Linked DNA regions of Homo sapiens: region 1 is linked to region 2. A link means that fine-mapping ties the variant in region 2 to the expression of a gene that starts in the linked region. Tissue or cell type: monocytes after LPS. Region 2 holds a variant in brackets; the other region holds the start of a gene. All regions are shown on one strand. Distances are from middle to middle.

The links. PIP is the estimated chance that this variant, and not a neighbour inherited with it, causes the effect.
Region 1: PICALM starts here. The variant in region 2 is fine-mapped to the expression of PICALM in monocytes after LPS (Quach 2016, PIP 0.95). The same link has a PIP of 0.9 or more in monocytes.

Annotation. Positions count from the first base shown.
Region 1 is chr11:86,067,251-86,071,250 of GRCh38, forward strand. It overlaps PICALM (phosphatidylinositol binding clathrin assembly protein), which reads right to left and starts at 1,834. Exons shown (of 20, transcript NM_007166.4): 1 at 1,401-1,834. The coding sequence starts at 1,530. LOC124902731 (a long non-coding RNA gene) reads left to right here and starts at 2,674. Exons shown (of 2, transcript XR_007062823.1): 1 at 2,674-4,000. RefSeq lists enhancers at 480-1,182, 1,183-1,884, 1,624-2,823 and silencers at 1,449-1,498, 1,569-1,618, 1,759-1,928, 2,079-2,348.
Region 2 is chr11:86,136,668-86,141,019 of GRCh38, forward strand. No RefSeq gene overlaps it. Among named protein-coding and RNA genes, the nearest start is that of LINC02695, 55 kb to the right of the region's middle. The variant C/T (reference allele first, on the strand shown) is at 2,534.

The sequences.
Region 1 (4,000 bases), 70 kb before region 2:
TTTCAGGGCATGCTCACTCTTGCTTCAAACAGTAAAACAAAGTAACTTTCATGTATGATGAAAGTCAGTCAGACTAATGTGTCCAGTCATTTAAAAAGGGAACTTACTTATCGTGACTATTGCCCTATTTTTCCCTGAAAAGTTTCAGGTCTAAGCTCCATTGGCTTGAGTGATCCAATGAGCTTTGTACCCTGGGGTAAAAGAGCGCAAAGAAAAAGGAGGGTATTACAGGTGACTTCCAGGTTAGAAAAAAGTTACGAGGAGTTAGCTCTACTAATTGTATCTACGTTAGCGAATGGACGAATACTATGTCGTGTAAGAGAAGCTAAAGCTAGTTCCTCAAAAGGTAACTGGCATAATTAAAACATCCAAACTCAAGCATCATCAAACATCATTTTGCCAATTTTTTTAAGGGATGTATGTTATTTGTAAGTAAATTTATTAATCCATTTGGAATTCCAACAGTCTACGCTTAACACTCAAGCTTCTGAATTCAAGCCGCCAGAATTAACAGTTCCAGGAACTGATAAGAGTATCAGCAAAATGCCTTTTTCCATATCCCCATGTGAAAAGCTGGGGGGCAGAGCTGACAGTCACAAACTCACCCCAGTCAAAAGTATGGACAACACAACGATTAAATTCCACCAGAGGCAAATAAAAATCCCAACTTTCCAGAAAGCTTTCCCTACACCAAATTGAATCCTTTTACTTTCACTCCCACAAAGAAGGTAATCTGAAATAAAAGTCGGGTAACTGGGTATGGTATTTAAAATGAGTCGAAGAAACTACACTGAAGCTACTATAGAGGCGATGAAAAGGTAACCCAAAAGCAGGAGGGAAGGTGGAACAGAAAGCCAGGAAGGGATGGGCGAAGCAGCTAGTGGAGCAAAGGAAGTGGGGGATCCCTTCCAGGGAGGCAGCCCGGAGGGATAACAAGGATCTGGATGCAAGGAACCAGGCGTTTACTGAAACCCGAAGGAGGCTGATGAAGAAACAATGGGGCTTGGAGACGCTCAGACGAGGGCGACGAGGCGGCACCGGACGGGTGGGAAGGAAGAGCAGAAGGCTGCAGTGGAGACGGGTAGGGGGTGAGAAGCCAGGTGGGGAAGCAAGTTGGTTGGGTATGATGGGGTGTGGTAGCGCACCGGGCAGGGAGACGAGGGTCCCCTAGGAATAGGGAGGGGAGTGGCTTGTCAGATTTTGAGACGGGGAGCGGAGGCCGTGAAGGCAGGTGTGATGGAAGCAAAAGAACACAGCTCAACGGGCACAGGACCGGCCGTGCCAGAGAAGACGCAGGGAGGGAAGAGGCAGTAGAAGGGTGAAAGACAAGAGAGAGAGAGAAGGACGCGCGCGGGTCGCGCGGGCGCCGGGGAGCGGGGGCCGCGGTCGGCTTCACTCACAGTCCAGGTGCTTTTTCTTGGGCCCCATGATCTCGTGGGTCGTGGCCTTGCATACTGTCTTGGATACGGCAGAGCCGGTGACACTGTGCTGGGCGGCAGTGATTCGGTCCGTCAGGCTCTGGCCGGACATCTCTGCAGCTCCTCCACCACCCCACCCGCTCAGCAGCCGGCGGGGACTGGGACCCCCAAGAGCCGGAGGGTCCCCACCCCCCACCGCACCCCCTACCCCCACCGGCTCCTTCCCCGCCTGCCGGCCTGGGGCGCGGTTCGGGGCCGCGCGCTGCCACCAGTCCAGAGAGAACCGGCTCGTGTCACCCGCGGAGTCGGACAAGATGTCGGGCACTCCCTTGCCCCCGCCTCAGTTCAGCCCACCCCTTCCCGGGTCAGCTGGAGCCGGGCAGGGTAAGAGGAACAGGCAGCTGCAGGAAAATGGCGGCGCCAGGCTCCTCCTCGGAGCTTTCCGGGCTGCCCCGGGTCACGTGACTCGGACACCGCCCCTCCTCCCTTCTCCCGCCCCTTTCCCCTTCCCTTTCCTCTTCGACGCCCGCCCTCCCTCGCTCAGCGAGGGAAGAGCTGGGCGGCGCCCGCGCGTTACGTGATGGAACTCGCCAGGCGGGCGCAACAGGAGGCCCGCCCGAGGGGAGTGCACAGCCGGCGCATCACGTGACTCTCCCTGCCAACAGGTCGCCTGAGGCTCGGCCCGCGGGGTCACAGACGCCGGGCGGGGCGGGGCGGGAGAGGAATGGCGAGGGCGGTGTGCTGGCGGGGGTGGGGCGGGGCGGCAGGCTTCTCCCCTTATCCCCCCACCTCAAGTGTGTCCTCGTGTCTGTGGTTGAAACCAACAGCTTGACAAAGGAGGTGCAGCTGCCTTCACAGCTTCCCCTGAAGTGGGGGGTATTAGGCCTCTGGCTCCCCGAGCTTTCCCAGCAGAGTCAAGAATGTATTTCAAGACGCCTCCCAAAGCCGCCCTCCTGGCTTAAAGGAGAAGGTTCCAAACGGCCTATTTTCTGAACCTTCCAGCAGGCCTCTCTCTACCATGGAACTATTGAAGCTCTCCTTATTTACTTACCCCAGAAAGGTTTTTTCCCCCCTTTCCTTGAGAGGCTTGGAAATGTCACCTGGTTTTGTTTATCTCTACTCCGAAAACCCGACACGTTGCTGCCATTCTAAATTTAGATACTAGCTGGCCGGTATTCATTCTCTAGGGTGTGGAATAGGACAGGAAACACATAGCTTCACTGGAATTTGAAAAGGGAAGTAGTAGGATGATGTCAACAGCGATTAGCTTGACCCTACATGGCTGACTGCTGTGGTGATTAAAGGTCCAGACCATAGAAGGAAGTGAGAGGGGCGGTAAATGGAGAAGTCCCATTCAAACAGTCCAGACATCACTGCCTGCCATCTCCCCTGGTTTAGTCTTTCTTACCTTTGGCCTCTTTTCTCTTATTGGGTGAGCCAGATTTCCATGGAAAGACGTTGACACTGCCCTGTGGACATTTTAAAAGAAGTATTACATCCTGAAATACTATTCAATGAGACCCAGACCATACATTAACAAAGCCTTTTATATGTTATTAGAGCCTCTACATTCAACCCAGGGTTAGGGATAAGTTGAAAAATATGTGAGTGCTAAGTTACCATGATAGTCACATGTAATCTTGCTAGTTTCAAATGAAATGCTAACATTCTCAGAAAGTCTGTGTACACCATCTGCCAGCCAAATCCAAAATACTGTGCTTCAATCTGGTGACTCTCAAAGGATGCAAAGCTGATAGATATTTAACATTTTATGTATCATATCAGGAATTTTGTGGTCTCCCATTTTCCCCACGCCCCCTCACCCCTCTTTTTTCCCCACTATGGCTGGTGAAATTCTGCAGCAACATGCTCTTGCCAAGAACACACAAGTTTTTAATCCCAGCAGGCTTCATCTTTGTCAAGCCAGCCTCCAATTTCACAAAACTATAATGAATTCCTTCAGTGTACTGCAATCCATCTGTGGTTTGGTGCCCAGTTTGCTGCCCCACGTCCACTGGGCAGTGGAATTACCAAATTCTCAAGACATGTTATCAGCCATCATTGCTACTGGTCTATGGGTTCCACTGTATAAGTTACTGATTGGCCTGAGCCTCTGCATTGGTAAACCCCAATCTGAGGTCAACACTAACATGGTCTAGCTATCAACAGCTGAATATTTTATCCTTAGGGAAAATGCCAGTCATTCCTAAGTACATAACAGGAAAGTATTACACTATTACTTTTACCAAAGAGGTTCTTTCAGACCACTTTTGTGACAATAATTGTTGACATGTTTACCCTATTAACAAACAAGCTGCTGTTAGAAATATTTTATTTTTTTCCAAGTATACATAGTAGAATTTCTAACTATGTAAATAATCAGTAATCATTGAAGAGGTTTATGTGTGGTTGTGAACTGAAATATATGGAGAAATTTAAAAGAAGATGGGGAATTGTTCTAAGGGTAGACATTACTGACCTATGTTGTCTTATATGCTTAAGTTTTCTGTGTCAGTTTCCTTGGTCTATTCAGGAAATATCTCTACCTGAAGTTCCACAGATGCCAACTCACCATGGCCAAT
Region 2 (4,352 bases):
TTAGGAAGTAATAGAGAAGGCTGTCTTTCCTAATGGTTTCACCGGCCTCTCATCAACCGAAACTGAAAGCCTTTGGAATTCTCTCCACCATTTCACCACTGCACTCTTGAGTCCTCTTGATTCTATCCCCAGATTATTCTTACATGTATTCCCTCTTGTCCAGCACATTAATTGAGGTTCTCAGACTGAGTTATTCTAACTGCCTTTTAACTAATCTCTCTGACTCCAAGACCTCATTATCAAGCCAGCCTTTGCACTGCTACAAAACTAACCTCCCTAAAACACAGGTTACACTATGGCCCTCTCTTCCTTTCTGGGCATATCCTTATAACGCAGGGAATAAAATACAAAATTCTAGCATGCTATTCAAGGCCACCTCAAGTCTTGACAATGCTTTGTGAGCCCAACCTCTGGAAAATGAAAAATACATAGAAGAAAAATAAATTTATAAAATAAGCTGGATATAGTTCATAAAATCTGTGTCCAAAAATCTACTGCAAAAAGTGTTTTGTGTGTGTGCATACAAATATAAATTTAGATAGATAGAGATATGTATATGACACACAATGTTATAAATGGTTAAGATTTCTAGACAAGCCCATACAAATCTATTTGATGTATAATTTGTAAACAAACTACTGTGCATGTGCAACAAAATTACTCTGCAATGCCGATAAATAAAATAGGAAAACCATTAAAATTTAAAATAATTTTTAAGAAATATATCTTGACCACTGACCCTTGAGATGACAAGATGGACAGATGACTCCATTTGTCTTTATAGCTAACATTTACACTGTGCTTACAATATGCCAGGCCATATTCTAAGAGCTTTACAAGCAATAGCTTTACAAGTATTTGATCTCACAACAACCTTATAAAATAGATACTATTTCTCCATTTTGTAAACAAGGAAACTGAGGCATGGGGTAATTAACTTGCCCAAAGTCACATGCAAACTGGTAAAGGTGGGATTTGAATTCAGACAGCTTGGTTCCGAAGTTACCACTGCTTAAATTAGCACAGCCATTATGGAAAACAGTATTAAAGTTCCTCAAAAAATTAAGCATAGAACTACCATGTGATCCAACAATGTCACTACTAGGTATATATACAAAGGAAATGAAATCAGTAAATTGAAGAGATATCTGCACTCCCATGTTTACTACAGCATTATTGACAATTGCCAAGATATGGAATCAATCTAAGTGTTCAACAATGGATGAATATGGATAAAGAAAATGTGATATATATATATGTATATATATACCACAATGGAATACTATTCAGCCGTAAGAAATAACGAAATCCTGCCATTTGCAACAACATGGATGAATCTGGAAAACATGTTAAGTGAAGTAAGCCAGACATAGAAAGACAAACACAACACGTTCTCACTCATATGCAGAATTTTTAAAAATTGATCTCTGGCTAGATGCAGTGGCTCAGGCCTGTAACCCTAGCAATTTGGGAAGCCGAGGCGGGTGGATCACCTGAAGTCAGAAGTTTGAGACCAGCCTGACCAACATGGTGAAACCCCATCTCTACTAAAAATACAAAATTAGCCAGGCATGGTGGCACATGCCTGTAAACCCAGCTACTGGGGAGGCTGAGGCAGGAGAATTGCTTGAACCCAGAGATAGACGTTGCAGTGAGCCAAGATTGTGCCACTGCACTCTAGACTGGATGACAAGAGTGAGATTCTGTCTCAAAAAATAAATCAATCAATAAATAATTATAAAAATAAAGATAACCAAAGTTTCCACATTTAATGACAATTCTATCTTGAGAGCCACTGTAGAGTTACCAGGAGGAGCTAGAGCTGGTTAATGGTGGAGAATGTGCAGGAAGTGTCTAAAACTGTCAGGGCTAGACTGGCTGGGGAACAAAACTGGGTAGTCAGGATTGGGTATTGGGTACATGATGTTTTACTGAGGTAGTTTTAGTGCCAGTGATATTTCAGTGTTCAGACTTAATTCATTACTGTAAAGAATAAATTATTAAATTTTCAGCTTTTAAAAAATCATCAAATAATCTGTGTAGATAATCTCCTTAATGTCAGGATGAAATGAGGGTCAGATGAGGAATTCAGGAATGGGGCTGGACACAGAGATGTGGTGAGAGATGGTGAAGCTTATGAATGGGGTAAGGTTGTTACCCATGTCATTTGTTCATTTTTTAAAAGTGATAACCAATTTCTCTGAGTCTAAGATCTCCTAATCAAGCCAGCCCTTGCACGGCTACAAAACTAACCTCCCTAAAACACAGGTGAGACTATGGCACTCTCTTCCTTTCTGGGCTGCTCCTTATTGGCTTGATTTTTAGGGTCCAGTATATCCAAAGTGTCAAAACAAAAATGTATTACTTCAGAGGGACATGCAGGAGGAAGAGGTTAAGCACTGAGTGCTAACCACAGTCTGCCTTGGGCAGAAGCAGAAAGAAGCCTCAGGCCAAATGATAGAAGGGAAGTCGCTTTCTGTTTTTGTTGCCGGAAAGGGCAAAGAATCAAAACACCACTTTCGCAATGAATGAT[C/T]TTACAAAATTGCAATAACTGTGACAAGACCTGAAAGACAAAACGCATTTTTGAAACATCTTCATGCAGTATCTTTTTGCTTTGAAGTATTTCCCATTTGAAAATTGGGATTGTTTGATGATGTACCATCATCTCTGGTATCAAGACAAATACCAAGACAAATCTTGGTAGATCAAGACAAATAAAATATTGTGAGAAAATTGGGATACAGAACCAGGTTCAAATCCAGGCTTTACCACGTATCAGCTGTGTGTTTTTAGGCAAATCTTAACCTCGCTGAATCTCAGTTCTTTCATTAATTAAAGGGGAATAATTTTACTACCTGAGCCTTAGGATTGTTAGAGTGCCTCAGACAGTCAGCATTCAGTAAATATTCAAATATTCATCAAATAGCAACAGTGGTTAGTGGGATTACAGTTGATTATTTATTTTAGGTCTCTGTATTTCTTAGATTGTCTACCATGAGTATATGTTGTTTTTGTAATTAGAAAGAAAAATAAAACTTATTCTTTTTAAAAATGAAGGCCGGAGGGCTGGATACAGTGGCTCATGCCTGTAATCCCAGCACTTGGGGAGGCCAAGGCAGGAGGATCACTTGAGCCCAGGAGTTGGAGAGCAGCCTGGGCAACATGGGAAAACCCTATCTCTATCAAAAATACAAAAATTAGCCAGGCATGGTGGTGTATGCCTATAATCCCAGCTACTTGGGAGGCTGAGGTGGGAGGATGGTTTGAACCCAGGAGGCGGAGGTTGCAGTGAGCCGAGATCGCACCACTGCACTCCAGCCTGGGCAACAGAGCCACACCTTGTCTCAAAAAAAAGGCCTGGTGTGGTCACTCATGCCTGTAATCCCAGTGCTTTAAAAGGCCAAGGAGGATCGCTTGAGGCCAGAAGTTCAAAACCAGCCTGGGGAATGTAGTGAGACCTCGTCTCTACAAAAAATGGAAAAACAAAAAAAAATTTAACTGGGTGTGGTAGCACACGCTTGTAGTCCTAGCTATGTAGAAAGCTGAAGCAGGAGGATCTTTGGAGCCCAGGAGTTTGAGGCTGCAGTGAGCCATAATCATGCCACTGCACTACTGCCTGGGCAACAGAGCAAGACTCTGTCTCAAAAAAATAATAATAATAAAAATTAAAGACGAGGGGCATAATTTCTCATATTTTTACATTTGCTCTCCCCACCCTTGTCTCTTTTATGTCTCTTTCTGCTGTTATAAAGAGTGCATGCTGTCTATGCAGCGATATTCAGAAGGCATCATAGAATGACAGTCATTCTCTATTCTCCAGCACAGTGCTTTTGGGGTCAGCTGACTCTACCCAGGCCTGCAGTACTGAAATGAGGCTCAGATCAGGGTGGTGTCTGTGTCCACGGGAGATCTGTTCTCTCGATTACATATCGATTCCCATCCTACCATTTCCTCAGTTTGACACTAAGCTGGATGCTCCCAGCCATCCCCAGTCCTCAGACAACTGTATTTTTTCCCTCTAGTTTTATTTATTCGGCACCAAGGCCTAGTGGCACCGACATGGCTGCAGGAGTCAAGCCTGCAGTTGGTCTTTGAAAAACAGGGAGAGTGTGGGCGAGTGCATTAAAGGAAGCAAAGCTCTGGCAGCAAACCAGCTTCTAATCTTGACGCCACCCCTGGTTCTCTTCTTTTCTTTATCATTTTAGGCTTGTGGGTCCCAGATCTCCATATTTGCCTTCTGGAACTGCTTTAGCAATAAGAAAAAAGATGGATGAGGGAATTAGGGCCGAGTTACTCCAGCCCCATGAAGCACTCCAGCACCAGGAAGCATAACCTGAGGCTCCATCACGTTT